Linked DNA regions of Homo sapiens. The protein of the gene in region 5 purifies or fractionates together with the protein of the main gene of each other region. This does not show direct contact. Each region holds a gene or a part of one and is shown on either strand. Other genes may lie near its edges.

Region 1 (4,487 bases), on a different chromosome or scaffold from region 5:
CTTCTAGTTCCATGTTGTATATTCACCAAGTCAGTTTTAGACTATATATTGTCATGCTCAGCACTCCCTTACAGAGATAACAGATGCCAAGTTGAAATTGACTTATACAGAATGCCACACTTAGGTAAGTGTTTAGGAGTGCATAGCCAAAATAAAAATGGTACCTTTGGTTTATGAATGGCAGGGCATCTAGGACAGTGTAGGTCAGTTCGTATTCTCTGGATGGACATTTATGTAAATATTAAAACATTTAGATTAGATGGAAAGATGTATAGTAGGAACATTTCAGAGATACTGTTTCCTTGTAGCATTGTACTATTTATCTGAATTGTTAATTTGGAATAATCACTATATTGATTTTATTTTGAAGATATAATTTATTTCCATTGACTTGATATAAATAACAGAAATGCATCTGCAAGGAATCCAGTTCATTAAAGAAATTTACATTCGTATCTGATTTGGTAAATATGTGCTTGATTTGGGAATATTATATAACAAAATATTTGTGAAATCATTTTGTACTTTTTAATTGTTTTGAAGAAATTTAATACTCAAAATATTTCAAGACACCAAATCATGACTTTTTAGTTATTACATTAAGCTATAACTTGCTTTAATGAGTAAAAACTGTGGGGCTAATTTTCTTCCAAGTGAAACATCAAGTTTAAATAATGTGCACATGAATTTACAAAGTAGAATCAAGTGTGCAAATATGCTATATGTTCTGTAATAGGTTCTTGAAAAGCTGTATATAAACTCAGCTTTTATAAGTTGAGTCATATTTATAGAATAAGAAAATAGGGCAAACATTTAACACTTCTTAAATATTAAGTGATGGGCATACAGATGTTTGTTATGTTAATCTTTATATTTTTCTGTATGTTAGAAATAGTTTACAGAAAAAAATTGTGGTTAGTGACATTAAAGCACATTATATATTAAATATACTCAGGGACTTTGAAATTTAAAGCAATATCAACATACAATTTACCATAGAAAAAATCCTATTCTGATTTTATTAATACCTGTTTTGCAAATTCAGAATTTTTAATGGGTTTAATTAAGCAGATACACACACAACAACAACAACAACAAAAAACTTGGACACACTTCTGTAACACATCTTGAATATAGTCTCATCTGTTGGAATTTTTTAAACTTCTACACTTAAGTCTTAATCTGATTCTCCCTCATCCTCATAATATTCATTATTCAGAGGAGAGGCATCAACAGGAAGAATTCAATTTTACTTAAATAAAAATTTTTTACTAGCAACGGAATGAGTGATTCAGTGGTGGTGTCTTCCTGCTTTGAGAGAGCTGTTCTAAGACTAGGCAGTTAGTCTTAGGCCTAAGACTAGGCAGTTAGTCTAGGGGCTCCACAGCAGGCCCTTCCTCTGGGTTCTCTTTATGAAGAAGGCCTTTGTGTTTTACATAGATTTTGCATTTGTGCTGCTGTCCCTATTGAGTTGTTCTCACCAAGCCAATCTGGGGAGTAGCTCTTAGGGGAAAACTAGTCAAACAGGTTTGCCTGTCTATTCAAAAGGAGGGAAGAACGGTGAAATGTATGGATAAAGGCCAAGAGTAAAACTGTTTTAAGTAATATTCATGCTAATCACTGACTGTTGGTTTTGAAAATACTTTGTAGACATTTGTGAGAATGTATCTTAATGGAGATAAAGTAAGAGAGAAACTGGAAGGGGAAGTAGTTTAGAAGCAGGGGATAAGGACAAGATGGGGAGAAGGAAGGGAAAAACAATGGAGGCAAAATAAGCTCAAGAAGGAAAGAATAGTGTTTCAGTGTCATATCTGGGCTTTATGTAAACTGGGTGTGTTATAGCAGGAAACCATGGTATTGATCTGAGAATGAATTTAATTAAAACAAACAAAAAACCCCCACATGCCTGTGATCCTCAATGTCCAAAATAGGGAGCGTCTTGCCAGGGCAGGGCTGAAGTTTACTAGGAATATTGGTGGGAAAATGTTATAGTTAACCATCTCTGATACTAATCTTATATTAGAGATAATACTTGGTTTCCCCTAGTAAAGTGTTAGAGTCATACAGCTTTATTGTAGTTTGCAAATCTATTACACATATATTTCTACTGTTTAGTTCTCATTCTGCCCCTGAAGCATAGCCCTATAGGTAGTAGCATTTTACAGCTCATAACTTGGTAGAGTCCCAAGTAACCTTTGGAAGTCAAAATGACAATCCAGTCTGGGGAATTTGATGTTAAAACTAAAGCTTCTTGCCTAGAACAAGTTTTGGAACTATAGCTCACCACCTGCCTCATGTTCTGGGAATGCTGAACCTTGATCCCACTGAAATTACCTTTAAGTAGTCTTTCTGTAGTCCTCAGTAATCTCCTCCTTTGCTCCATGCTTCTTCCCTGCTCCTTGAGAGTTCCTTCTCCTTTCTCATCTGTAATGGTAACTCCCCATCTGATCTTTGGTTGTGCCTCTTCTTCCTTCCTGGCATTTTTATTAACATCTTTTGTCCCAGCACCTCTCCTCTTCTCTATTCTCACTCCTTTGGTGTAGTTATTCATGCCCATAGACTGGATTTTTATTTATATATAGATGATTCAAAAAGCTGTATTTCTAATTGTGATTTCTTCTATACTCTCAAGAGCTTAGAGTTCCCAGCTCAACTTCCTAACTCAGATCTGACATCCCCATTTGCCTCAGTCTTCGAAGACAGATTTTGGTGTTGTGGAATTCACTTTTTTACCCTTTATATCTAATCTATTCCTAATTGATCACTATGTCCTTCATGAAGACCTTCTTCCCTTGCCTGAGTCTTTCCATTCACCTCCTGATGTCTTGGTGTAGTCCCACATCACTTCTTCACCAGTGGTACTAAATGACTCATTTTCACCATTACCTGGGCCTTCCATCACCTCCTACTGCCCACAACCATCAGTCACTTGTCCTTACTGACCCACTTGCCTTCTTTGAGTGTGATTTGACTATGCGTTTATTTTCACATGGGGATCCAAAATTTTTAGCATGGCTTTCGAGGCTGTCTATTGTCTAGCTGCTTTCTGATCAGACTTATTTATTTTCTCATATTGCTCAATAGGATTCTATCCTGTTTACCCACTGGGGCATTCATTTCAGGATATCCCCCCGCTTGAGATGTCCTGCCTTTTTTTTCTTCTGCACTTCCAAATTCTCACCCAAGGTTTTGACACTCAAGTCCCACCTCAGACTGTGGCTTCCCAGTCTCTGTCACTTTTCTGTGACTTTGATTTGTACATATATTGATGTTAGCAATTAGGTTTCATTCTCCCTCTAAGGAGAGTATGAACTCTTAGAGGGTGGAGTCTCTTGTCTCCTCATACACCTTGGACAAACACTATTGATCAGAGAGAAGATATTCAAACATGATTGAATGGTATCTTTAGTTTGTCATGAGGCAATAAGGGTAAGTTTCCTAATTTTCTATACGTATTTTGATTTTTTCCTGTTGTTTTTTCCAGAACTGCATCATTCAAACTTGAAACATTCCCCTATTTTTTTTTAACAAGGTGTTCTATATAGGAACAACATATCTTATAGGGATTGCTACATTATTTAGTCACAATGGAAAAAAAAGTTTGATATATAGAAAGATTATATAATAGTTACATGGAACTCTACTATAAAATTATAATGGTTTAGTGGGTTTTCTTTTTTAAATTTACCTGGGGCTTCTATAGGTGGATGTGCATTCACAACTAATTCTAGGTAATGCTAATAAAAGAAAATAATCACGGTGATAATTAACTGTATTTAGTTTTTATTTTGTATTTACATTTCAATGTAAGTATGCCTAATGTCATGAAACCATAGTTGGAGAAAATAATGATTATATGCATGAGGAAGATAACTTAGGAAGCATTCTAATTGTCCAACTCCCCACTTCCCCATAGACCTTTTATAACAATTAAATCAAAGCACCAGCCCAGGAATAATTCTTTTTTCCATTCTTTGTGCCTATTTCCTCCTTTGATAATTGCTGAATTCTTCTGGTCAGAATATCTCCCTTTCCATCTCCCTCTGAGCAGAGCAATAGGAATAGGAATATATTTTAAGCCAGGTGAAGTGGTGCAGGTCTGAGGTCCAGCTACTCTGGTGGCTGAGATGGGAGGATTGCTTGAGGTCAGGAGTTGAGGCTCAGGCTGTAGTGTGCTGTGGAGATCGTGCCTATGAATAGCCATTGCACTCCAGCCTGGGCAACATAGTGAGACCTTGTCTCTTAAAAAAAGAATATATTTTAAGAAAATTCCTCAGCTAAAGTAAAAAGAAAAGAGAGATAAGCTAGGTAAGATTATTAATCAGAAGTAATGCTTGTCTGTTTAATTTGCCAGTTTTAAATAATTCTTGAAGGCATTTGAGAGGTCATTATATTCTTTTAATCAGTTAGACTTTATCTGAATATATGCTTTGGAATATACTTTTTCTTCAAACTTCTAAACTATGTGCAATATACAGAAACAAGGT
Region 2 (4,321 bases), on a different chromosome or scaffold from region 5:
GGCTCCCCAAAGAGGGAACTCTGTCTTCCTCACCTTTGACTCCTTATGCCAGTACAGTGCCAGGCACAAAGCAAATGCTCAGGAATTGTGGAACAGAACTGACCATTTGTTGCCACTTTATTATTCTAAGATTTCAGTGGAATCCAATTGCTTATCAAATCAAGGCAGGGTAAAGGGTTGGACTTTGTTTAACAGGCCACCTCCAACCTCCCTTTTCTACTATTTCCATGCTTTCTATGCTTTAGACAAAGAACTCATTGTTTTAAACATTCCTTCCTCTTCTTGCTCCTGTGATTCTGCTCTTGTGCTTGCTTCTGCCTGGGAAGTGCCTCCTCCGTCCTCATCTCAAATCTCATCTCTCTTTACACAGCCACTGCAGATGCCCCTTCCTTGGTGAGCCTTTCTGTGTCCTCGGAAGTTAGCTATTTCTAGACCTGAACTATTTCTCATGCTTATTAGGTGTTTAATGTGTACAAACCAGTGAGATTTGTTCCAACACACTATAAACTTTCAAGGAGAGAGGCTGTGTCTTCTTCATGTTTATATCTGCTGCAACACTGAGTTCATGGCTTTTCACACATAATTGCTCAACAGAGCAGGTGCCATGGAAAGTCAATTCAATGAGTAAAATTACCTCAAAATAGTCTGTTAATTCACTCACCTTTGAAGTAGACAGATTATTCTGCATTGATACTTATCTCTTACTCTTAAAATTCGCTATGTATTAATAAATATTTTATTGAATATTAAGGAATGATCACTATTTTAATAAGATGTTCTTTACCATATATTTCTATATGTACATGATAATTAGAAGTATCAAATTATATTGTGGAATGTAAAAGCTTTTCTTCTGAAGCCAAGCATTTGTTTTATTGTCATTTCAGTGGCAAATATGGACTTCATATTCAAAATGATGTTCTATATTATTTTTCCTTACAAGCTTTTTGAAAAACAATTTAATAATTCCATGATTGTTGTAGCACCACTGAATTGATTCTGAAAGCTTACTTTTTAAATAAAAATTGACCTTTATCAAGCATTCCTTGAGGGCCCATGATTGATTAACTTCTTGGCAGGTTATTAAGACTTATTCTTTCACACTGTATTAATGAAGCTTTATATTGGCATGGAGCTCTAACCACTGTGTCCTTTCTGCAAAGGTATATCTATGTTGCTGACATATTGGCTCATGAAATTCATGTTTTGGAAAAACACACTAATATGAATTTAACTCAGTTGAAGGTAAAATATTTATTTTTACATATAGACAGTAATCTATTATGCTTTGCAATGACATAGTTTTTCTATAAGAGTACCACACGTAGAACAAAATATGGATGCCAGTGTAGCTATTCTGGGTTTTTAAATACTCCCTACAACTAGAGAAAGCTCCTGTTTCCAGCGATCTCAAGAACTGACCATGATTACATGCAGCAGCAGGTTGAGAGTGATATTCATCAGATTTAGGGCCCATTCCATGAAGTATTGATGGCAGTGGAAGAATTCCAATAAGAATTTTCACAATTGAAAATACTAATAGATGAATTCTCAAATGAAGGTTTATGCACAGTGTCAGTTCTTTCAATAATACATGAAGGTAGAAATTGGGTTCCACACCATTATTATTTTCTTCCTACTCAACAACACATATTTTAGGTTGATTAAGAATTTCCTATCTTGCTTTGATTGAGTTCCTTGAGCTAACTGATCATTGTGCATCTTTTAAAGGAAAAGGAGTTCAGTTTTTAAGATAGATTTTTACAGAGACCGATTATCACCCTAACTTTCTTAATTTCAGGGAAGAAGAAAAGTGGCTCCAAACCAGTTTTTAATACATTCCTTTTAAGCAATATTGGTGTTAGAAGGTGGAAGCAGGGCGATGTGTAATTTCCTCACATGCATAGAGGCAGGAAGGTTACCTCTAAATTATTTAATCAAGTTTCTCATGTCATTTAGATTTTGACAATTTCTCATTTGGAAGGTACTTGAGCTGGATACACTGGTGGATAATTTATCTATTGATCCTTCCTCGGGGGACATCTGGGTAGGCTGTCATCCTAATGGCCAGAAGCTCTTCGTGTATGACCCGAACAATCCTCCCTCGTCAGAGGTTTTTATATTTTCAGTTTTTTAAACTTAATTATTCAAGTCCTTTTGAACTAATAATACAATAAATTGTCACAGGGATGATTTGTTTAGTTATTTTAAAGCAATAATATAATAAGCTTATGTCGTGGTTTTGTAATTGCGTTAAGCCAATAATTGGCAGAATGTTACATTGTTCAAATACTTTAAGAAAGGTAATCTTTTGATGTATTAAATTATGGTGGAAACTAGTCAAAAGGCATTTTTATAAAGACATGTGCCCTTCTTGGGTGGTATACTGGCAATTTTTAAAATATCTGATTTATTGTCAGCTCACCACATGATGTGATATTTGTTCATGTTGAAGTAGTGTGAAAGTAGGCACATTAGTATGAAAGTATTTCTATTAAAGCTGAATTGCTATAATAACACTAAATCCTGTGTTGGCATGGAATAACTAGATGGTTTTAAGAAAGTACTTTCTTTGAAGATTGGAGAAAGTACTTTAATTTAAACATTAAAAAGATTGGTAACTGCTATTTTCAACAGCATGTCCCCTTAATCAGTGTGTCATTGTGGAAAACAGGGCTTATTGATGATTGAGTGACATGCATGTACGGTGGTCTTATATTCATACTTTGTATCCCCTGAATAGGTTCTCCGCATCCAGAACATTCTATCTGAGAAGCCTACAGTGACTACAGTTTATGCCAACAATGGGTCTGTTCTCCAAGGAAGTTCTGTAGCCTCAGTGTATGATGGGAAGCTGCTCATAGGCACTTTATACCACAGAGCCTTGTATTGTGAACTCTAAATTGTACTTTTGGCATGAAAGTGCGATAACTTAACAATTAATTTTCTATGAATTGCTAATTCTGAGGGAATTTAACCAGCAACATTGACCCAGAAATGTATGGCATGTGTAGTTAATTTTATTCCAGTAAGGAACGGCCCTTTTAGTTCTTAGAGCACTTTTAACAAAAAAGGAAAATGAACAGGTTCTTTAAAATGCCAAGCAAGGGACAGAAAAGAAAGCTGCTTTCGAATAAAGTGAATACATTTTGCACAAAGTAAGCCTCACCTTTGCCTTCCAACTGCCAGAACATGGATTCCACTGAAATAGAGTGAATTATATTTCCTTAAAATGTGAGTGACCTCACTTCTGGCACTGTGACTACTATGGCTGTTTAGAACTACTGATAACGTATTTTGATGTTTTGTACTTACATCTTTGTTTACCATTAAAAAGTTGGAGTTATATTAAAGACTAACTAAAATCCCAGTTTTGTCTGTGTTTAATTCTGAAGGCATATGGCTAGGAGAAATGGGAAAGCAGCTGCTTCCTTATGGAGTTTGGATAGGCAAGCATGGCCATATTAATTTCTCTTGTGGAAAGCTGAAAGTGAATGGACTCTTAATTTGAAACAACAACAACAAAAATCAATGAAATATTGCAACTCAAATTCCCAGTTCCTAAGGAGGTTTCCATCAGCTCTCTTCCTTAATGGGAGTCCACTTTAGAGACAAAGAGGAAATAAGGGTTGGGACAGGAAGGTCTTGCCACCTCCTCATTGAACAGAACTGTGAACTAAAGCCAGGAGAATGAAGTCAGTCGTCCGTGACCACATGGTTAAGCAGCAGCAATGCTAGGATCAGGGCCGCGTGCCCAGCTCACAGAGGGAGAGTTTTTCTGCTCACTGTACCTCCTATAAAATCATCATAAGCCCTAGAGAGAGACTTTCATGTGTTTCTTTCCATTGTAATTTATCAAACCACTTTACTTCACTTCTCATACTTTTTCCCTATCATCATCATGAAAATATTTGTCAGTTAATTACAATATGCCAAACAATGCAATGAAAGTATTACATTCGTTATCTTATTTAATCCTAATTGCAGCCTGGAGTAAGTATTGATATTATATCACTGTTAACATTTCACAGATATTCAGTCTATTTCTGATGCCAGAGCCTGTACCGCTAACCACTACATGATGCTACTGCCATAGAACGAACTAGTATTTTATTACTGTTTTTCCTGATGTATACAGTTTCTTCATGTTTTGTAGATATGTTTGAGTTCTGCTTTTAGATGAATCATTTAATGGATTTTAAATTTAAATTTCAGTAGTATTCTTAAATTTGGCCTGTATCCATTTGGCCTGTGTTGTTATTTATATATTTAAGTAGTTTGCTACATATTGTATTGGATTTATTTCATGCTAAAATAATTA
Region 3 (4,487 bases), on a different chromosome or scaffold from region 5:
GGAGGCAGAGCCGTGCAGGAAGCAGTTTCTGTTTCCAGGTGCGGAACACACCTTGTGGGAGCCTGGGGAGGTGCCAGGCTAGGTGAGGGCAATCATCTTTGATACCGCAGATGTTGCAGTTGCTTATCATGTTGAACTTCGTGACGTAGCCGGTGTACTGGCCAAATCTAGTTAAGTTTTGGCTGTTTTTTGTGGTTATGAGAGTCTGAGCTGCTGAGGAAGCTGGGTGTATATTCTGCACTGGAGACACATTAGGGACCCTACCTATGCCCCATCATACCATCTTAGGTTCTGGGTAAGGCCAGTATGCTGATACTAATTTCAAAGCCTAATCTAGCCATGTGACTTCATTTTAAGGAGAATTAGCCATTTTTTTTTGGACTGAATGTGTGTGTACCCCAGCATTCATAGGGGAAATCCTAATCCCCAATGCTGGCAATAGGAGGTGGGGCCTTTGAGAGGGAGCAGGTTATTAGGGTGGAGCTCTCATGAATAGGGTTGCATACCTTATGAAAGAGGCCCCAGAGAGTTCTGTTTCCCCTTTTGCCATGTGAGGGCACAGCAAGAAGACACCATCTGTGAACCAGAAAGCCCTCACCAGACACTGACTCTGCTGGCACCTTGATCTCAGACTTCCCAGTCTCTAGAGCTAGGCGAAATAGATTCTGTTGTTTCTAAGACACCCAATCTGTGGTCTTCTGTTACAGCCGTTGAACTAAGACACTATTCAAACCTTCATGTCAGATTTTACATATGTTGCCGTCTTACAATTCTGATACCGTACATTGGGCATTTACTCACAAAATCCACATACGCGCTGTAGAAGTGGCAGGGGTGTTTAGATGAGCAGGCTTGCTAACAAATGGTACTCTGTATTTCTTTTTTCTTCTATTGGTAGTCACATTTTTGCCTATCCTTGACACCTTCTATGAATTTTTATCTAGAGTATTAGAGCACGTTTTCCCGTGACTGCTGGAGGGATACAGGAACTGAGTGTTAATTTCATCCTCTGGTGATGTCTTTTGCTTATGGTTAAAGGACCTACTCCCGTATCCTCTCTGCAGATTCCTTCAGAGGCCAACATTTGTAGGAAAAAGAAAAGATTCCTTCTCTATGGGAAGGTGAATGGACAGCATCAGTCAATGTCAAGGATGTTCTTATAGCTGGAAACTTGAATTCTCACAGTAACTGGATATTCAGGCCTTGTAAGAGTTGAATACCTGCCAGGTGGCCTGGAAGAATACCTTAATTGCAAAACAACACCGTGTCTGCTCCAGTCCTAATTTGAACACAGACAACAACTGCTGAAGCCGGGAAAGCATAACAGTAGCTTGCAGGGAAGGCCCGAGGCTGCTGCAGAGGAGCACTGAGTACTGTAGCTTTTGAGGCCTCAGTCACAGCAGCGGGCTGGAAGTTTTCACCTCATTTTAGTTTTCCTTGAATAAAACCAGAAACTTCTGAAAGTTTAGGATTAACTGAATGTATTATCTCCTGGAACGTTATGTTTGTTTCCTTTTTATCAGAGAGGAGCAGATACATGCCTGGCTGCAGCCCCTTGACAGCTCATTTTCTGATTGTTTCACTAAATGAGTTTGCTCTCTGATAAGACAACTTTCTTTTTGCTCTGTCTAATCCTTTGTTATTCTTTCAGCTTAAAGCTTTTCAAGCCAGGCCAAGAAGCTGTGAAGTACCAGGGTCCTCGGGACTTCCAGACACTGGAAAACTGGATGCTGCAGACACTGAACGAGGAGCCAGTGGTGAGTGTCTACCTCCTTCCCTCCCTCCCTCCCTCCCTCCCTCTCTCCCTGCCTACATCTTTGGGGTAATATGTAACGGGGCAGAGGCCAGTTGAGGTTAATGATTAAGGCTGCCATTTTAAAGCAACTCTACTTTTTTTGGAGCTTATTGGTATTACAGGTAAAGATGAACTTTTACAGAAACTTTTTGGTGTGGAAATACCTAAATGTGCACAAAAGTCAAGAGAAGGCTAAACCCTGAGTTTCAGCAGTTACCACCATTTTGGTGTTTGTCTTCCCCACCACCCTGCGCCTTGTTTGGCTGTAGTCAGTCTTCAGGGAAGTCACTTGTGTGGCCTCACAGATAAGCACTTACTCTTTGTTAACACTGCCACCCTGCCACTGTCACAGGTAATACAGTTCACAACTGTACCCCAGCATCAGAGACTGACTCTGGACCACCTGGGGTCAGGGCTGGGCCCAGCCTAGAATCTCCTATCCAAGCCAGCACTGGAGCCTCCTCCCATCCCCCCGACCTTTGCCCTCCACCACCTGCAGCCCTCTGGCTCGGGCCTAGCCCGACAGCTGTACCCGTAGGGTGGATCCTTCCTTTTCTTCTCGGTGCTCAGTCCCCGAGTCTCTAATGGGCTTTGCTTATAACATCATTTTGTACCATTAATACTCTGTGTCTTAATGCACTTCCCTTACTAAGGCTAATATCAGGAGATTGTAGACTCTTAGAATATTATGTACTAAAAAGGATTTATAATCCTCCCCCTCCCCAGTTGATGTTGGAAGTCTTCACTTTTTTATAAATCATCATGATCATAAACCACTGGTTAAGTGTTCCTTTGTGGGTGGTGCCTTCTGATTAATGCCGAGTGCTCAGGTCCCTGGATGCCGGGTAGACCTGGTGGGTCATGCTGCTGTGTTGGAGAGGGACTGGAAAAACACTCGTGTTCCTACACTGTAGGATCCTGATGAGCTAGGAAGAGCATCTGAAGTCTTTGTAATTTCAATTTCAACAAATACCTAAGACTACCTTCTTGTATCAGCTAAGCGCCCACTGATTTGAAGGTGGTCTGTGGTGGTCCTTTTGGAGCTTTGCCGCTTACTGTTGCCAGTTTCCAGTGTGTCTGTGCGGCTCTTCCGCTCTGCCCCATCTTCTCTGATGACCTAATCAGAAACTTGGCTGCTGATTCAGTGCTTCCATCCCTCACCTGCAAAGACTCTCTCAACTCGGCTGGGTGTGGTGGCTCATGCCTGTAATCCTAGCACTTTGGGAGGCTGAGGCGGGTGGATCACCCAAGGTCAAGAGTTCAAGACCAGCCTGGCCAACATGGTGAAACGTCGTCTCTGCTAAAAATACAAAAATTAGCCAGGTGGTAGGTGCCTGTAATCCCAGCTACTTGGGAGGCTGAGGCAGGAGAATCACTTGAACCCAGGAGGCAGAGGTTGCAGTGAGGCGAGATCATGCCACTGCACTCCAGCCTATGCAACAGAGCAAAAACTATCGTGGAAAAAAAAAAAAAACTCTCTGAACTGTATGGTGGAGACTGTTGGTGTGTGATGTTATGTCGTTGAACCAGAGACTTACCTAACTTTAGCTAAAAGAACCACAGACCTCTCAGGAAATTTGCATCTTTGTCCTGGCAAGAAAGCTGAATGAGCAGGTGTGACTTTCATAGTTTTCAATTGGACATTGTTTCCTTTGTGAAAATATTCTCTTTGTGGGGACACATATATTGGATGGTAGCAAACCAATTTTAAGGAGGAGTTAATAGCCTCAAATAAATTTCACCAAAAAAGCCAGTCTTCTATGATGGCTTTATTCAAGAAACCAGCAGCCAGTATCAGGACGGCAGAAAGACCTCATCTCATGGCCCATTTCCCTTAGTGGAGGTGGCGGCCTCACCTGCAGGTTGGAAAGGGCTGAGAGGCTGCGTCCAGGCTCTGCAAGGGACTTTCTGTCTCCTCAGTGTGGGAGCAGGATGGCCGCGTGTAATCCCCCCATGCCACCCCAGAACCACAGTCACCAACTTGCCATATTTTAGTGTCTCCAGCAATAGCAGGCCCCAGATAATTGCCAGAAACAATGACAATGCGCCTTATTGTGGAAAAGTTTAAGTATATACACTTTATACTGCAAACCAGAATTCTCTTAGCTTTTTAAGTGAAAACTTTAAAAAAAGTTCTTTATCTGTATACCTAAGTAACTTAGTACATACATTTTTTAATATTCACGTGGGATAAATTTAGATTTTTTTAAGTGTTGTGGCAATATTCAAGAAACTCAAAAGACAATTTGTCACTTTGTACATTCTACTGCAATTTTTGTATTTCCATGTTTGCTTCTGTATTTTTTCTTGAACAGTTATACAAACATGTTTCATCTCATTAATGATTTTATATATTTATGTGGTCTTTATGTTGATCATGTCTTATATTATTTTATCATGTGGATTTGCCATAATTCAACTCTAATTCTGTCAGTGGATATTTAGGTTATTTATACCTTTTCCATCATCAGTAATGATGTAGGGAACAAGTTTATCTTTGTAAAGGACTTTCCACCCCCCCTTCTTTTGAGTGATATTTTTAGAATATAGTATTCCCAGACATAAAATTATAAGGCCAAGAATAAAAAAAAAGATCATTTTTATGGCTCTTGATGAATATAGCCAGGTTTCTTAAGCACCATATCAGCTTATGCTGCCACTGTAGGGCAAGACGTGACCTGTTTCTGGGATG
Region 4 (4,487 bases), on a different chromosome or scaffold from region 5:
ATGACTTTGAGTTCTGTCCTTTGTCCTGTACCCATTTGCATTGCCAAGGTGAAGTTCAGCAGAACTGTTTTAGGGTAAAGATCTTGAAGTCCACAAGGAGTTTCCTTGTGGGTAAATTGTGAGAGAGGTATGTAGCCTTTTATCTTTGTAGCCGTCTTATGTAGGAATAAAATGGGAGGCAGGTTTGCCTCATGCAGTTCCCAGCTTGGCTTTTCCCTTTGGCTTAGTGATTTGGGGGTCTTGAGATTTATTTTCCTTTCATACCTTGGTAGTGTCACTTGAAGCCACCACGCCCGGCTAATTTTTATATTTTTAGTAGAGACAGGGTTTCACCATGTTGATCAGGCTGGTCTCGAACTCCTGACCTCGTGATCTGCCCTCCTCCTCCAAAGTGCTGGGATTACAGGCATGAGCCACCATGCCCGGCCAATTTTTCTTTTCTTTTTTTTTTTTTTTAAGATGGAGTCTCGCTTTTTCACCAGGCTGGGGTGCAGTGGCACAATCTTGGCTCACTGCAACCTCCACCTCCCAGGTTCAAGCGATTTTCCTGCCTCAGCCTCCCAAATAGCTTGGATTACAGGCGCCCGCCACCACACCCAGCTAAGTTTTCACCATGTTGGCCAGGCTGGTCTTGAACACCTGACCTCAAGTGATCTGCCCGCCTTGGCCTCGCAAAGTATTGGGATTACAGGCGTGAGCCACCATGCCCAGACAGGTTTTTCTTTGATTATTTGGCATTATGCACCTGCAGTCTCAGAATAAATTTTTTACTTTCTCTGAGTGATTTTCGCTTCTGCTTTGATGAGATTGTTGGGACGGACAATAAGGGACCAGTGCATTCTGCTCATTCCTTCTTGGGGCCATTTCTTTTGTATATACGGGAGAAAATGTCTGTCTATAGTGTCAGGCTATAAACCTCGTCCTAGTCAAGCAGCTCACAAAACCATATGGTGGGTCTCACATCAAACCAGGTAAAAGAGTGAGGATGATTTAGACTCAAAGAAAATTAGAGCTAGAAATAAATTTAAAGCTCATCCACCCTGCTCCAACCCTAAGTCAAGCCACATGGTCTTCCGATAGTGGCTCAGTTTTCTACTTACATAAAAAGACAGCACATTCTCTTAGCAATATGTGTTTGTATGTGTGTGTGTGTGTGTGTGTGTGTGTGTGTGTGTGTATATATATATATATATATATATAATTTAGAGACAAGGTCTGACTCCATCACCCAGGCTGGAGTGCAGCAGTGTGATCGTAGGTCACTGAACCTTCAAACTCCTGGGCTCAAGTGATCCTCCATCTCAGCCTCCCAAGTAGCTAGGACTACAGGGGCATGCTGCCATATCCAGCTAATTATAAAATTTTTTTGTAGAAGCAGAGTTTTGCTTTGTTGCCCAGGCTAGTCTCAAACTCCTGGCCTCAAGCAACCCTCTTGCCATGGCCTCACAAAATGCTGGGATTACAGGCAAGAGCCACTGTGCCCAGTCCCTCTTAGTGATATTTTGCATATTATATATTCAAAAAATATTTTCTATGTATGCCACTTGGGAAACTTCTGTAGAATGGGATAGAGGGACAGATAAACCCAATTCTTGATCCACTCAAAAATAACACCTGTGACAGAGTGAAGATGAAACAGGTGCTGGGCACACAGCAAGTGTTTTAGAAACATTTTTGAACTCAACTTTGCCTGAGTTGTGGTGCTGATCATGGCTGCCAGGAAATGCTAGCCAGCTGTTCTTCCTATACAAGTATATGACTGGGTGTCTGCAGCAGCTGCCCGGCTGTGAATTGCACACACCAATGGCCAAGACCCAGCAGCGACTTGGCTAACAGGCCCAGCCGATGTGCATGGGTGACCACGCGATGCTCCTGACACACGCACTGGTGGCTTAGGGAAGTTTTTTTGAGGATTGATCAGAAGATCTGATTCCACCTGGAGCCTCTGAAGTGATCACTTCCAGGTTAGGCTGAACCCAGATACCAGGAGACCTGTGTATTGAGAGCCTTTTGTTTTTTTTATGTAGTCACAACTATTCCATTAACATACAGCTAGGCATTAGAGAATCCATGCTGGACTCCTACAAAGGCCCCTAGATCCTTAGAACACTCAGAGATTCCAAAGCACACGTCCTCCCAGGACACCCTGGCAGAAGAGCCCGGGGGCGACTGTCACCTTTGCCTGCTGTCGGGAGCTGTGCTGATGGGTAGGGGGCTCTGTGCTTGCTGTGGCCCAGAGCCAAGCCGTGGGGATGTGCTCTGTCTGGAGCAGACCCCTTCACTGTCTGCCTAACTCCTTCGTGTGTTCCCGGAACAGCTTCTGTGTTATGCATTCCAGAAAGCCTGCCTGACCACCCCAACCTCAACAAGCCTGGGATGGACAACCTCCTCCACATTCCACTCCAAGCCCACCCCCGTCCCCACCCTGCTGCGTGGTATGGCGCTGCTCTGCTGTACCCTGAGTGTCTAGTTATTCATCAGGCCCCTTCCTAACTATGAGCTCTTTCAGGATAAGAGCTGTGTCTTTGCATCACCAGAGCCTGTGCCAGGGCACGGCTGGTGCTCCATACACGTTGATGGTGAATATATAGCATGGGTAGATCATTGTCTGTGAATGCTTAACAGAGAAGCAGCTCATGTGGGTGCTTGAGGGCTGGGGGGGCAGGGTGGGGGTCTGGTAGGCGCTGGGAGGAGGACATCCCTGCAGCTTCTCCAGCCCCATAGATGGGACTCTTGATGTGGGCAGTTTTTATTTCAGCTGAGTCTCCAGAAGGCAGGGGACAGGGACTGGGAGGGGATGCTAAACCCGATAACCCAGTATGGATGAGCTAACAGAGGCCGGGCACACAGCTCCTGCCTGTAATCCCAGCACTTTGGGAGCCCGAGGTGGGCGGGTTGCTTGAGCCAAGGAGTTTGAAACCAGCCCGGGTCTTGAACATAGCGAAGACTCTGTCTCTACAAAAAAATGAAAAAAAAAAAAAAATTAGCCAGACATGGTGGCACGCACCTGTAGTCCCAGCTACTTGAGAAGCTGAGGTGAGAGGATCACTTGAGCCAGGGAGGTTGAAACTGCAGTGAGCTGTGATCACGCCACTGCACTCCAGTCTGGGTGACTGGGCGAGACCCTGTCTCAAAACAAATAAATAAGAAAGAGAGACTACTGGTCAACTTGATTTCTGCTGGTTATTCTCTTTCTGTCATGTTCACCAAAAAGAGAAACCCGTTGTATTTTATCTTGTTGTAGCAAGAGCCGGTGTCTAACACCTGGGCTACTGAGAGAAAGCGAAGGGTTTTTTTCTGGGAAGCTCCAATTTCCTTATTTCTCTCACATGATGCCTCTGACTTTCATAGTGTGGCTTGGTCAGATGGGCCTTATCAATAGAGATGGCCTGATGTCTCAGCTGTGTCATCTCAGCTGCTAGTTCTGGCTTCTGCTGGGAGTCCACAGTGGCCTCTGCATGCATGGTGTGGGAAAGGCAAATAAAAAAGCAGATTAAAAACCAGATTAAAGACATCACCCTGTATTCAGGAAATAATGGCTCCTGTTGATACTGTTCTACGAACACAGATGAAGGCACAAAATTCTACATCAATTGCAGAGAATTGGTTATAGGCTAACACAGGTGGTCGGATGATCTAGGAAGCAGGATTCAGTATTAACGGGGATCCATGAGGACCCCATGAAGCGTGGCATCTCTTCTGCATCAGCAGCTTCAAGTTGTTCCAGGGAGAAGCGGGAAGCCTCAGTGCTTTTGTTGAGGAAGGATGTTCATGACAGTAGGTGCAGGTCGCTCCTGCCGTGCACCCAGGTGTGGGGGAAGGACTTTCCTGCTTCTTTTCCAGTTACCTTACAATTCAGCAAGACGGAAATGATTAGCCCATGACAAAAACCAGGAAACAGGCTCAGAGAGAGTGAGTTGCCCACACAGAATGTGTGCTGTAAATGCAGTTAGATTTCCAGGTTGAGAATCCAGTGACCACGCCCCTTCTTTGTGGCATTCTGCTGTCGTATACCATGTGGAACACATTAAGAACGTTATGGCCAGGCGTGTTGGCTCACGCCTGTAATCCTAGCACTTTGGGAGGCCAAGGTGGACAGATCACCTGAGGTTGGGAGTTCGAGACCAGCCTGGCCAGCATGCCGAAACCCTGTCTCTACTAAAAATACAAAAATTAGCCAGGCATGGTGGCACACACTTGTAATCCGAGCTACTCGGGAGGCTGAAGAAGGAGAATCGCTTAAACCCAGGAGGCGGAGGTTGCAGTGAGCTGAGATTGCACCGTTGCAATCCAGCCTGGGCAACAGAGTGAAACTCCATCTCAGAAAAAAAAAAAAAGTTACAATTGGGTGTCACATAGACAGTGAGGAGTAGTGGAAAGAGTGTTAGATTTGGGGTAAGAGAACTGTGTCTCCTGGGCTTGAGTCCTGATGCCAACTCTCACAAGATGTGTCACCGTACAGCACGACGCTTATACTTTTTTTTTTT
Region 5 (4,487 bases):
TTGATTTTTTTAAAAATTGTGTATCTAAGAACCTCAATGAACTCCAAGTAGGACAAAATTTTTAAAAACCCACACTTAGACATATCAGTCAAACCGTTAAAAGACACAGAATCTTTAAAGGAGCAAAGAAAATTGGTACATCACATGTAAGGAGTCTCAATAAGATTAGCAACTGACTTCTTATCAGAAACCATGAAGGCCAGAGGGCAATGGGATGACATATTCAAAGTGATGAAAGAAAGAACTGTAAACCAAGATTTCTATATCCAGCAAAACTGTTATTCAATAATGAAAAAATGAGATACCACTTCATTTGTACTATGATGAGTATAATTTTTTAAATCAAGACAGAAAAGTGTTGGTGAGGATGAAAAGAAATTGGAACCTTCGTACATGGCTGATGGGAATGTAAAACGGAGAAGTCACTATGGAAAACAGTTTGGTAGTTCCTCAAAATCACAGAAGTACTATATGATCCAAGGCTGGGCACAGTGGCTCACACCTGTAATCCTAACACTTTAAGGGCCAAGGTGGGAAGATCACTTGAGCTCAGGAGTTCAAGACCAGCTTGGACAACATGGCAAAACCCCATCTCCACAAAAAATACAAAAATTATCCAGGTATGGTGGTATGCACCTATAGTCCCAGCTACTTTGTGGGAGCTAATGCAGGAGGATTGCTTGAGCCCAGGAGGTCAAGGCTGCAGTGAGCCATGTTCACACCACAGTGCTCCAGCCTAGGTGATGACAAAGTGAGACCCTGTCTCAAAAAAAAAGCCTGGGCACAGTGGCTTATGCCTGTAATCCCAGCACTTTGGGAGGCCAAGGCAGCAAATCACTTGAGGCCAGGAGTTCCAGACCAGCCTGGCCAACATGGTAAAACCCCATTTCTACTAAAAATACAAAAATTAGCCAGTCATGTTGGCACATGCCTGTAATCCAAGCTACACAGGAGGCTAAGGCATAAGAATTGCTTGAACCCAGAGGCAGAGGTTGCAGTGAGCCGAGATCATACCACTGCACTCTAGCCTGGGTGATACAGTGAGACTCCATCTCAAAAAACAAAACAAAAGAAGTATTATGTGATCCAGCAATTCCACTCCATGGTATAGATCCAAAAGAATTGAAATCTGGGGCTTAAACAGATACTTGTACACCATTGGTTTGTAACATTATTCCAACAGCCAAAAGGAGGCAAAACCACAAACGTCACCAACAGATGAATAGATAACGTGTTACATAGGTACCATGGAATGTTATTCAGTCATAAGAAGGAGTAAGATCTCATACATGCTATTGTATGTATGAAGGAAAGTTGAAAACATTAAGCTAAGTGAAATGAGGCAGACACAAAAGGACAAATATTGTTATGATTCCACTTATATGAGGTACCTAGAATAGGCAAATTTATAGAGGCTGAAAATAGAATGGAGGATATCAGGGGTTAGTGGTGGAAGTGAGGAATTATTGTTTAGTGGGTACAGATTTTCTGTTTGGGATGATAAAAGTTCTAGAAACTGATAATGGTGATGGTTGTACAACATTTTGAATGTATTTAATGCATTGAATTACACACTTTTGAATGTTTAAAATTGTTTTATGTATATTTTGCAATAATTTTAAAACAAAAAATTCCTCAGAAGGCCAGGCACAGTAGCTCACGCCTGTAATCCCAGCACTTTGGGAGGCTGAGGCAGGCAGATCATGAGGTCAGGAGACCGAGGCCATCTTGGCTAACACGGTGAAACCCCGTCTCTACTAAAAATACAAGAAGTTAGCCAGGCATGGTGGCAGGCACCTGTAGTCCCAGCTATTTGGGAGGCTGATACAGGAGAATGGCATGAACCCGGGAGGCGGAGCTTGCAATGAGCTGAGATCACACCACTGCACTCCAGCCTGGGCAACAGAGCAAGACTCTGCCTCAAATTAAAAAAAAAAAAATTCTTCAGGAATTCACAATAAACTATTAGAAACGAAAAACAAGTTCAGCAATGTTTTAGGATACAAGATCAATATACACAAATCTATTGTATTTCTATACACTAATAATGAAGAATCCAATAATGAAATTAAGCAAACACTTCAGTTTACAATAATATCAAAAGAACAAAATACTTAGGAATAAACTGAACAAAAAGTCTAAGACTTGTACAATGAAAAATACAAAACATCATCAAAAGAAATTAAAGACCTAAATAAGATACATCTGTCTTCATGGATTAGAAGACAAGATGGCATGATTGCCAAAAATGATAAACAGATTCAATGCAATCCCTATCAAAATCCCAGTTGGCTATTCTAAAATTTATATGGAAATCCTAAAATTCACATGGAAATATAAGGTACCCAGAACAGCTAAAACAATCTTGAAAAATAACAAAGTTGGAGGACCCATACTTCTCTATGTCAAAACTTACTAAGCTACACTAATCAACTCAGGGTGTTCAGGCATAGAGACAGACATATAGATGAACAGAACTGAGAGTCTGGAAATCTAATCAACTGATTTTCTTTTTTTTGTTTTGTTTTACATTTAGAGACGGGGTCTCACTCTGTCACCCAGGCTGGAGTTCACCCTGGAGTGTAATCATGGCTCAAGGCAAACTTGAACTCCTGGGCTCAACTCCCACCTCAGCCTCCCAAAGTGCTGGGATTTCAGATGTGAGCCACCACGCCCAGCCTACAATCAGTTGATTTTTCAACAAAGATTCCATGATAATCCAATGAAGCAAAGAATAGTCTTTTTAGCATGTGGTGCTGGAATAAATAGACCAGGCAATGGTTTCTAATATAACACTAAAAGTACAAGTAACAACAACAACAAAACAACTGGACTTCATAAAAATTAAAAACTTCTGTGCTTTTCAAGGGACACTATCAAGAAAGTGACATGAAAGCCCACAGAATGGGAGAAAATACTTGCAAATCACCTATCCAGTATATATCAGGAATTCTTACAACTAAACAATAAAAAGACAACCAAATTTAATTATAGGCAAAGAATCTGAACAGACATTACTCCAAATAAGACATGCAGATGTCCAATAAGCACATGAAAATACCCTCAACAAAATTAGCCATCAGGGAAATGCAAAAAAAAAAAAAAAAATGCAATGAGATAACAACTTGACACTCAGTAGGAAGGCCATCATCAGAAAGGCAGACCATCACAAGGCTTGATGAGATGTGGAAAAATTGGAACCCTCGTAACATTGCTGGTGGGAATGTAAAATGGAGTAACTACTTTGGAAAACAGTTTGGCAGTTCCTCAAATAGTTAAATGTAGACTTACCATATGCCCAGTGGAGCAATTCCACTCCTGGATATATATCAGAGAGAATTGAAAACATGTTTTTATAAAAACTTGTACACAAATGTCCATAGCATCACTATTCGTAATAGTCCAAAAGTGAAAACAAATCTCTGTCAATTCATGATCAGATAAACAAAATGGGCTTTATGGAAGTTACTATTCAGCCATAAAAAGGAACGATGTACTGAGACATACTACAACATGGATAAACCTTGAAAACACTATGTTAAGTGAAAGAAGCTAGACACAAAAGTCCCATATCGTATAGCTCCATTTATATGAAATGCCCTGAATAGGCAAATCCATAGACACGGAAAGTAGGTGAGTGGTTGCCAGAGACTGAGGACAGAGAGGGAGGGGCCATGCGCAGTTATTGCTAGTGGAGATGTGGTTTATTTTGGGGGTGATGAAAATGCTCTGGAATGAGACATTGGTGATGGTTGCATAATTCTGTGAATATACCGAAAATCCACTTAATTATATACTTTAATAACGGTAAATTTTGGCTGGGCTCAGTGGCTCACACCTGTAATCCCAGCACTTTGGGAGGCCAAGATGGGTGGATCACCTGAGGTCAGGAGTTCGAGACCAGCCTGGCCAACATGATGAAACCCCGTGTCCCTACTAAAAATACAAAAAATTAGCTGGGTGTGGTGGTGGGCACCTGTAATCCCAGCTACTCTAAAGGCTGAGGCAGGAGAATTACTTGAACCCAGGAGGCAGAGGTTGAAGTGAGCCGGGATCACACCACTGCACCCCAGCCTGGGTAACGAGCAAAACTCCGTCTCAAAAAAAAAAAAAAAAAAAAAAGTTTTATGGTATGTGAATTATATCTCGACAAAGCTGTTATTTAAAAATTGTATAGTTTTAATACTTACATTTAACAAATTAAAGCTTTTACCATGCCTAAAAATTTGAGCCTCTTTCCCCTCACCAGACGGAGAAAGGCTCTGGCAATGGAAACACACATTCCTGCCTATTAAAGCATCAGAAAAGATTGAAATAAGCTTAATTGTGGTTCACAGATTCTGCCAGTGTTTTTCTGCCTAGGCTGCATTTTCTCCTTTATCCTTTCAGGTTTTCATCAGGCTGTGTAAGATAGCTGGCAGGATCTGTGCGAAAAGTATCAAAATCATACCACTTTTCAGGGCCCAGATCAAACCTACAGGTATTGT
Region 6 (4,487 bases), on a different chromosome or scaffold from region 5:
AAAAAACCCTCCTCTTATCAGCTCATTCATGCCACAAATTCTTATGAGGGAAACTAGTTTGATTTCATGTTTTGAAAGAATGTCTTAGAATACAGATGTCTGGTTTAAGTAACTTTTCCTGTGAATGAATGTATTATTTTAATTTAGAGTGAGGGTATAACTATTCAGCAGGTATAAGAGATCTTGTTCTGTTTGGGGGGAGGGGAAGGGTAAGAGTACAGGAAGAAGTTGGATTTATTTCACAGATAGAGGGAAGAGATGGAGGGCCAGGAAGAGGAGAGAAAGGTTGCAGAGACCAGCTTTGTATACTTGCAGTTATGCTGTTTGTCTTTAACTGGATGGGGTCAAAGACCAGTTATGTCCTGAGGTGTTCAGGCCTTAGGAGCTGTGAGTTCCCTTTTTTCTGCAGTGTACAGGAGAAAACTTTTAAGCAGTCAGCTTACTTGTAAAGGAACTTCATTCTCAGTATTTTTATTAATCCAGATATCACTGTGGCATTTGGTAACGCTTTTGGAAAACTGTGGCATTACACAATTAATGATATATTTTCAGCCATAATAGACATTCATGAGCTAATGCAGGCACCTATTCACTGTTTATAGCTTTGCTTATATAGCAGAAGAGATTCTACTGCCTGTGAAGAAAAGAACTTGTGTGGTATATGCATACAACAGAATATTATTCAGCAATAAAGTGAAATGAAGTTCTGATACACACTGTAACATGGATGAACCTTAAAAACATTAAATATATGAAACTAGTCACAAAAGATCACGTATTATTTCATTCATATGAGATGTCCAGAATGGGCAAATCTATAAAGACAAAAAGATAGATTAGTGGTTGCCTGGGGGGAAATGGGGAGTAACTACTGATGGATATGAAGTGTTCTTGAGGGGGACAGAAATGTTCTAAAATTGATAGTGGTGATGGTTGCCCAAGTATGTGAATATACTAAAACCTACTGAACGTTATGCTTTAAATGAATAAATTGTAGGATATGTGAATTATTAGTATATCTCCATAAAACAGTTGAAAAATAAATGAACCGAGTTTATCTCATGAAAGTCGTCCTTCTTCTCTCTGCCTTTTGCTGCAGATTCCACCAAGGTCAGCTTTTTGGTGCAGGGAGCACTTCTTCCAGGGGAGCTGGGCAGGCACACTGTTAGTCTGTGCAGCCTCTCTGTGGGCTAGAAGGACTTGTGACCTGCCTGGAAGGGCCAACAGACGTTTACCTGAGCAACAAGCTTCTCATGGCAAGGCATCTTGCCCAGAGCAAGCAAGCTAATTTACAGTTCCATGTTTTCCAGATATTTTGTTGAAACATTACTTGGGAAATAACACTTCCTGGACTGGCTAAATGATGCAGCACATTGAACAGAGTAGAATCCTGCCTCTGAGATCAGAAACTGTGGATGTATTAACTGCTTAAACCATTTTTAGGCAGTATTTTCTTCCACGTGCCATTATGGTGCATACTACTTGTGGCCTGCTTGGGTGTGATAACCCAGAATGACACCTGCATTTGTCTTTTTTTAGCAGTGTGTTTTCTACAAACTAAGATCTACTTTGTTTAGGGTTTACTCATAGTCTGAGTGAAGCTGATAACACAGCAACCCTATAATTTGTTGGTTTTGGTTTAAAATACCTTCTTCCTTCTCACCATCGTTAAGTCCTGAAAGAATGAAAGTCAAGACAATTCAGCATAATTCTCTGTACTTAGATTATACACATTTTCCATTCCAATCATTCTGCCTATGTGTTCTGTTGCATATGAAAAGTTGGTGCAGTTCTAATGGAATTTGAAGTCCCATGTACTTGGGTCCTTTGAAGGTTTTCAAGCCGTTTTGCTTGTAAGGGGCTTAAAGTTTTAGAAGTATCCTCTTGAAAATGACTGCCCTAGCAATTTCAGTATGTGTTCAGTAGGGTTGTTATGAGTGAATGGGTAGATGGCATGTTCTAGCTAGGGTGTTTGCACTTGTTTAACATTTCTGATACCTGGCACTTTGGCTCGTATTAGTACAATTTTTCAAACATGACTGCTGTGGATGGTTTGGTTCCTTATGAGTTAATGTGGATATTTTGTGAGATTTAGTGCCAGACAGGGTTACTGATACAGATTAATTGGTAATAGTAGTAATGTTGCCAAATACTGTAGTAAAAATGGGCTTTTTGCCCATTTTCAGTCTCCAGGATTATTTTAAATCTAAGGATAATTAGAGCCTATGGTTGTTCTCTATCCTCCAAAGACAATAGAGGGAGAAGATCTGTAGTTTGTATAGTTCTCATTAACTTTATTAGACCTGCTGTTCAGAGATTAGCTTTTGCCTTTGCCTGAAATTTAATCTCCAGAACTATGATTAGCTTTCTGAGACTGGTATGTGTACAGAGAGCCACTTGATATTACCATTAGTTGCTTTTGAACCTTTGTTAGAAGCTCAAAGAAATGGTGAATTCTCAGGCAGATTGCATCCTTACCACATTTCTTTCAAACTGGACCATACAGTAAAAGTGTTTCTTCACTGTAGTCTTCTCAGTGCCTCAGATTTTTTTTTTAAGTTAAAGATTTAAAAGTTTTTAGAGCCATTTTAAGTTCACAGCAAAATTGAGAGGAATGCAGAGAGATTTCCCATATACCCCTTGTCCTGACACATGAATAGCCTCCCTCCTTTTCTTTTCTTTTTTTTCCCCTTTTCTTCTTTTCTTTTCTCTTCTTGATACAGGATCTCCCTCTGTCACCCAGGCTGGAGTTCAGTGACACAATCATGGCTCACTGCAGCCTCTACCTCCCATACTCAAGTGATCCTACTGCTTCAGCCTCCTGAGTAGCTACAGGCACATCCCACCAAGTCCAGCTAATTTAAATATTTTTTTAAGAGACAGTGGTCCCACTGCATTGCCCAGGCTGGTCTTGAATTCTTGGGCTCAAGTGATCCTCCTGCCTTGGCCTCCCAAAGTGCTGGAATTATAGGAATTAACCACTGTGCCTGGCCCCTCCCCTATTTTCATTTTTTTTTCTTTTTTCTTTCTTTTCTTTTCTTTTTTTTTTTTTTTGAGACAGAGTCTCACTCTGTCACCCAGGCTGTAGTGCAGTGGTGCGATCTCAGCTCACTGCAAGCTTTGCCTCCCAGGTTCATGCCATTCTCCTGCCTCAGCCTCCCAAGTAGCTGGGACTACAGGTGCCCGCCACCACTCCTGGCTAATTTTTTGTGTTTTTAGCAGAGACGGGGCTTCACTGTGTTAGCCAGGATGGTCTCGATCTCCTGACCTCGTGATCTGCCTGCCTTGGCCTCCCAAAGTGCTGGGATTACAGGCGTGAGCCACCGTGCCCAGCCCCCTCCCCTATATTTAACATCCCCCACATAATGGTACATGTTTTACAGTTAATGAACTTACACTGACGTATTATCACCCAAAGTCCATAGTTTTACATTAGAGTTCATTCTTTGTGTTGTACATTCAGTGTGTTTGGATAAATGCATAATGACATGTATCCATCATTATTGTATAGAGTGTAGTTTCACTGCCTTAAAAATCTGTGCTCTGCTTATTTATCCTTCTGTCCCCACTGAGCCCCCAAAAGCCACTGGTCTTTATTGTCTCCATAGTTTTGCCTTTTTCTAAAATGTCATCTAGTTGGAATCACGTAGTATTTTAGGTAGCCTTTTCAAATAGGCTTCTTTCACTTAGTAATATGCATTTACGTCTCCTCTATGGCTTTTCATGGCTTAATAGCTCATTTCTTTTTAACGCTGAATAATATTTCGTTGTCTGGGTGTACCACAGTTTATCCATTCACTTACTGAAGGGCATCTTAGTTGCTTCCAGTATTTGGCAATTATGAATAAGGCTGCTACATAAACATCTGTGTGCAGGTTTTTTTGTGGAGTGCCCCAGTTTTTCATCTTGATGGATTATAGTATTATTTTTTATTCTCCATGAAAGTTTTCTTTTTTTGTAGCAGTTAGGTACATTTTATTGTTTTTATTTTTAAAAGTTGTTTCTAAAAGCAACACTATATCATCCTGTTAAATACCATCATTTTACATTGTCTGATTGAAGAGGTAAGGTGTTGTCGGCTGGGCACGGAGGCTCACGTCTGTAATCCCAGCACTTTGAGAGGCTGAGGCAGGTGGATCACTTGAGGTCAGGAGTTTGAGACCAGTCTGGCCAATGTGGCGAAACCCTGTCTCTACTAAAAGTACAAAAAATAGCCGGGTATGGTGGCATGTGCCTGTAGTCCCAGCTACTTGGGAGGCTGAGGTGGGAGAGCTTGAACCCGGGAGTTGGAGGTTGCAGTGAGCCAAGATCACGCCACTGCACTCCAGTCTGGGTGACAGAGTGAGACTCTGTCTCAAAACAAAAAAAAAAAAAAAAAAAAGAAAGAAAAGATAAAGTGTTAATATTTTTAACATATCCATTTCTTTTATTTATTTATTTATTTTTTTTTTTGTGAGACAGGGTCTTGCTTTGTTGCCCAGGCTGGT
Region 7 (4,487 bases), on a different chromosome or scaffold from region 5:
GACTCTCATGAATAAACTGATCCTTTTTGTGAGTTGAGCTGTGGTAAATAACATCACATTTTAGCACGAGGGTTGCCACCTATTAATTCAAACAAGCCAGAGGTCATAGATCTACTTGGTGACTGGTGGAGCTGTGTGGATCTGGTAACTTGGAAGCCATTGTTCACTGCCTCTGCTGATTTGTTGCCACATTTTTCTCATTCATTCTGGACATTGCAGTGGAGGGAGCCACCTCTACTTTTGACTCCTGTCCTTCAGTTTCTCCATCTGCTCATGCGCCCTCTTAACCATGTGGCATGCCACTTTCGTGGTGGCCTCCCCTTTTTATTTGCTGTGGATGACCAGGGCCATCATCCTTTATTCTCTGATGTGGAAACTATTCAAGGGAAGTGAGCAAACTGGGCCAATGGTAGGATGTCATTGCAGAGTGCCAGGATATCCTGATGCTTTGAAGGAAAACCACTGGAGAACTTGGATGCTTTATCATGGTTTTGCCAAAAATATAGCTATTGAGTGGCAGTCACTGTGCTAGGGAATGGCCATCACCTTTTTGTTAGGAAATAATGTTTTATATGCATTTTCAATTGAAGCAAACATACCAAATGGAAGATAATTATATAAATTCACTTATATGATCAACATTTGTAATATCCTGTGCCTTGCTTGGTAAATGGCAAATAAAGATCTCTGGTGCACATTTAAAAGAATGCTCTTTTTTTTTGGGCTCTCTGAAGGTTGACCTGCTCTTTCTTTCTGAACTGCAAGTGCTACATGATATTTCAAGCTTGGTAAGTAGGCTGCTCTAATTTTTTAATTCCATTTATTTTGGTTTCTAGAGAATCCTTGAATAATAGTAAAGGCAGTTGAAAAGTTTGATTAAGTATGCCCTAGATTTATGATCCCATGAAAATTGAAAAATTAGTGGCAATATTGGGAATTTTGAACACATCCATGTTATAGTCAAATTATTTTGCATTTCTGCTTTTTAGGGAGAGACAACATATCTTCCAAGAACACAAGCCTGGGCGTAAGAACACCCTGGCCATAGTCCTAACTTGGCTGTTGATTTCTTGTGAGACTTAATTCCTATCTATATCTTTGGGCCTAAAATAGAAATAATAGTTTGGACTAATAATGCTGTCAGTCAAGTCAAGAAGGGACGAAATCCGTCTGAAGGGTATTTTTTTGGTGAATGATTTTTTAAAAATCATCCTTGTTACTGAAATAGAAATTCTTATCTGTTTGCTACCTTCTGAAGTTGTTTTCCAAACTTTTTCAACAGGTGTTGGTTCGGGGAGTCTGGAAGTGTAGTGCATTCCTGGGATCAAACTGGTCCAGCCATCTGTTCTTTCATACGTTGGCCCATACCTGAGTTTTTAAAACTGAGGAATTTTGTTGAAAGCTTTTATTAAATATCCAAGGAGTCTTGTACTGCTCCTAAACATGAGATTCGTGTTGGATTTATCAGAAACGCTTATTCAAACCAGTTTCTTTTGCCACCATTTTAGACTATTTGCATGTTGTGGTACACTGGTATGGTTTAGTTTAGCCTAGTTTAGTTAGGCATAAAACTTTAACTGGCTGTGTTTGACGTCTTTCATCTTACTTTATCCGCTACCTTTTTTTGTTTGTTTGTTCTCCTAAGCTGTCTCGTCATAAGCATCTAGCCAAGGATCATTCTCCTGATTTATATTCACTGGAGCTGGCAGGTTTGGATGAAATTGGGAAGCGTTATGGGGAAGACTCTGAACAATTCAGAGATGCTTCTAAGATCCTTGTTGACGCTCTGCAAAAGGTAAATATCAATGCGACATGAGAGGTTGGAGTATGACCATTTCACTTTTAGCCTCTTAATAGAAAAATCTGCTGTTTCAAACACTGTTGATTGAACTCTTATTTGCCTTCTTTGGGGCTCCTCTAATTATACTGGCCAAGGATGGAGTAGGGTCAAAAATGTATATTGATATATTTCTTCCTAATGCTAGAAAGAACAGCATTAGGAAAAGTTATCTCACACAAAGCTTTACAAAATTATTGTGGTAAAATATATATAACATAAAATTACCACTTTAACCATTTTTAATTGTACAGTTCAGTGGTATTAAGTGCAAGTACGTTCACATGTTGTACAACCATCACCATCTTCTATTTCTAGAACTTTTTCTTCTTCCCCAACTGAAACTCTGTACTCCTTAAACACTATGAGATAACTGAAGTAGAACACCCAGCACAGTACCAGACAGTAGATGCATAATAAATGCTAGTTCCCCTCTGCCCTTGAAGTTCTTCACCTGCATCCTTTCAGTGAGGCTTCATATTTTAATCTTTATAGATGTTTGTGATTAACCAGAGACCACTTAGGAAGATTTCATTTCTCTTTCCAACTTCCCTTCCTCCAATTTATATGCTGACAAATTCAGTCTCTTCTTAAAGTAATTTTAGTCTAAACATTTGAATATATGTTAAAGCTTAACACTTTTCTGTATAGTTGAGCAAAATCAAAACCTTTAAGACTTGCTTATTGTAAGATGTAGTATATTTCATGAGCCAGGAGGTAAGTGTACATTGTTCTTGTAGCTGCACAAAAGCTTTAAAAATAATTTTAATAAGTATGTATTTGACTCACTGCATAAAATGATAAGTAGGAGGTAATGCATATGTTAATTAGCCAATGTGGACTTAAGCCATTCCACAATGTGTACATATTTCAAAACAATATGTTGATGTGATAAATATATATGATTTTAATTTGTTAATTAAAAATGAAAAAAGTACATAGTTGAGATTCCCAATAATGTTAATAACTAACTTTCAGTTTGCAGATGACATGTACAGTCTTTATGGTGGGAATGCAGTGGTAGAGTTAGTCACTGTCAAGTCATTTGACACCTCCCTCATTAGGAAGACAAGGACTATCCTTGAGGCAAAACAAGCGGTGAGTATATTTTGAGATCCTGCTTTAAAACTGTAAAATTAACTTCTTATAAAAAAAAAAAAACCAAGTCCTATATCACCTAAGGGTGACATGAATGAGCAGTCAGTAAATCTGAAAAACAATTTCAGTTAAAACGTAAGCTTCTTGTTCACATACATATGTGTGCTTTGCCAGTGATGATCAGTTCTTTAGGGTTATAATCAGATAATGCAAGAATTTGAATTAGGGATAAAAGTAAATCTGTCCAAGATTATAATTCAAATATCAGTACACACAAGGAGATATCAGAAGTTAATGTGGCGCCAGGTGCAGTGGCGTGCATCTGTAATTGCAGCTTCTCAGGAGGCCAAGGCAGGAGGATTGCTTTAGCTCAGGAGGAGTTTGAGGCCAGTCTGAGGAAACATAGCAAGACCCTGTTTTGAAAACAAAAAGAAGTGAATGTGTGCGGGAGTGGTGTGGTGCCCACATCCTATGGGCTCTGCTTTTCTAGCAGGCACATTGTCTTTGTGGCGTAGTCCCTCACTTACTGAGATCCTCTGTGTGCACCTCTTTATGATTTTGATTTACTTAACAGTTTTTTTGGGTATGGATCTTGCTTTGATTTTAAGCATTTAGAGGGTCAGGGTTAAGCATTACCATGGTTGCTGGCCATGGTAAAATACATATCTGTTTATGTGTATGTACGTGCACATTTACATACATACATATATACTTACAGCTGCAGCAGAACCTAGGGAGGGTGATGGGAAAGAGTAGTGTAGATGCTCCCTAACATCCTACGTCTGAGAACATTGCTTAGGGCTGGCTGTATCACTTGCAGCAGATAGATATCCACTCAATTACATACACCTCCGCTTCAGACCCATTTGCAGCCCTCACCCTGCTCAGTTTTACTGAAGTCAGTGTGGGACTTGGAGTCGGAAGGTCGAAGCCAGTGCCTGTTTGAGATAGTCTAGCGATTACTGGTTTGAGATTGTTTCTTTCTAAATTAAATTGGGGATGGAAGGACCTTTGTTTCAGACAGCATGTCAGTCTAGACAACCACCCAAGATTTCCCACCATAAAACGTCTAGAAATGCTAGATAAAAATAAAGATCTTTTAAAAAGTACATAGTTTGGGCTGGGTGTGGTGGCTCACGCCTGTAATCCCAGCACTTTGGGAGGTTGAGGCGGGCGGAACACCTGAGGCCAGGAGTTCTAGACCAGCCTGGGCAACATGGTGAAACCCCGTCTCTACTAAAAATACAAAAATTAGCCTGGTGTGGTAGCGGGCACCTGTAATCCCAGCTACTTGGAAGGCTGAGGCAGGAGAATTGCTTGTACCCGGGAGGCAGAGGTTGCAGTGAGCCAAGATTGCACCACTGCACTCTAGCCTGGGAGACACAGCAAGACTCCGTCTCAAATAAAAAAAAAATTACAAAAATAAAAATACATAGTTCAGCTCGCAAGAAAGGGAAATTCTCTTACAGAGTAAATAAAGAAGAGGAGGCCGGGTGCGGTGGCTCACACCTGTAATCCCAGCACTTTGGGAGGCCGAGGTGGGTGGATCACA

The links.
Region 1: the proteins of SLC3A1 (region 5) and UGT8 purify together in Homo sapiens (affinity purification with mass spectrometry; one large-scale study listed by BioGRID and IntAct). This does not show direct contact.
Region 2: the proteins of SLC3A1 (region 5) and PON2 purify together in Homo sapiens (affinity purification with mass spectrometry; one large-scale study listed by BioGRID and IntAct). This does not show direct contact.
Region 3: the proteins of SLC3A1 (region 5) and TXNDC5 purify together in Homo sapiens (affinity purification with mass spectrometry; one large-scale study listed by BioGRID and IntAct). This does not show direct contact.
Region 4: the proteins of SLC3A1 (region 5) and PLAT purify together in Homo sapiens (affinity purification with mass spectrometry; one large-scale study listed by BioGRID and IntAct). This does not show direct contact.
Region 6: the proteins of SLC3A1 (region 5) and DIPK1A purify together in Homo sapiens (affinity purification with mass spectrometry; one large-scale study listed by BioGRID and IntAct). This does not show direct contact.
Region 7: the proteins of SLC3A1 (region 5) and ATP6AP2 purify together in Homo sapiens (affinity purification with mass spectrometry; one large-scale study listed by BioGRID and IntAct). This does not show direct contact.

Annotation. Positions count from the first base shown.
Region 1 is NC_000004.12:114,605,009-114,609,495, forward strand, and holds part of UGT8 (2-hydroxyacylsphingosine 1-beta-galactosyltransferase precursor), read left to right. Parts: intron 1-4,487. UniProt on the Homo sapiens protein: Catalyzes the transfer of galactose to ceramide, a key enzymatic step in the biosynthesis of galactocerebrosides, which are abundant sphingolipids of the myelin membrane of the central nervous system and peripheral nervous system.
Region 2 is NC_000007.14:95,403,911-95,408,231, reverse strand, and holds the end of PON2 (serum paraoxonase/arylesterase 2), read left to right. Parts: intron 1-1,163; coding exon 1,164-1,245; intron 1,246-1,984; coding exon 1,985-2,113; intron 2,114-2,743; coding exon 2,744-2,902; 3' UTR 2,903-3,370; downstream 3,371-4,321. UniProt on the Homo sapiens protein: Capable of hydrolyzing lactones and a number of aromatic carboxylic acid esters. Has antioxidant activity. Is not associated with high density lipoprotein.
Region 3 is NC_000006.12:7,896,846-7,901,332, reverse strand, and holds part of TXNDC5 (thioredoxin domain-containing protein 5 isoform 1 precursor), read left to right. Parts: intron 1-1,651; coding exon 1,652-1,757; intron 1,758-4,487. UniProt on the Homo sapiens protein: Protein disulfide isomerase of the endoplasmic reticulum lumen involved in the formation of disulfide bonds in proteins. Can reduce insulin disulfide bonds.
Region 4 is NC_000008.11:42,200,683-42,205,169, reverse strand, and holds part of PLAT (tissue-type plasminogen activator isoform 1 preproprotein), read left to right. Parts: intron 1-4,487. UniProt on the Homo sapiens protein: Converts the abundant, but inactive, zymogen plasminogen to plasmin by hydrolyzing a single Arg-Val bond in plasminogen.
Region 5 is NC_000002.12:44,306,186-44,310,672, reverse strand, and holds part of SLC3A1 (amino acid transporter heavy chain SLC3A1), read right to left. Parts: intron 1-4,487. UniProt on the Homo sapiens protein: Acts as a chaperone that facilitates biogenesis and trafficking of functional transporter heteromers to the plasma membrane.
Region 6 is NC_000001.11:92,954,265-92,958,751, reverse strand, and holds part of DIPK1A (divergent protein kinase domain 1A), read left to right. Parts: intron 1-4,487.
Region 7 is NC_000023.11:40,597,947-40,602,433, forward strand, and holds part of ATP6AP2 (renin receptor precursor), read left to right. Parts: intron 1-734; coding exon 735-788; intron 789-1,645; coding exon 1,646-1,795; intron 1,796-2,815; coding exon 2,816-2,935; intron 2,936-4,487. UniProt on the Homo sapiens protein: Multifunctional protein which functions as a renin, prorenin cellular receptor and is involved in the assembly of the lysosomal proton-transporting V-type ATPase (V-ATPase) and the acidification of the endo-lysosomal system.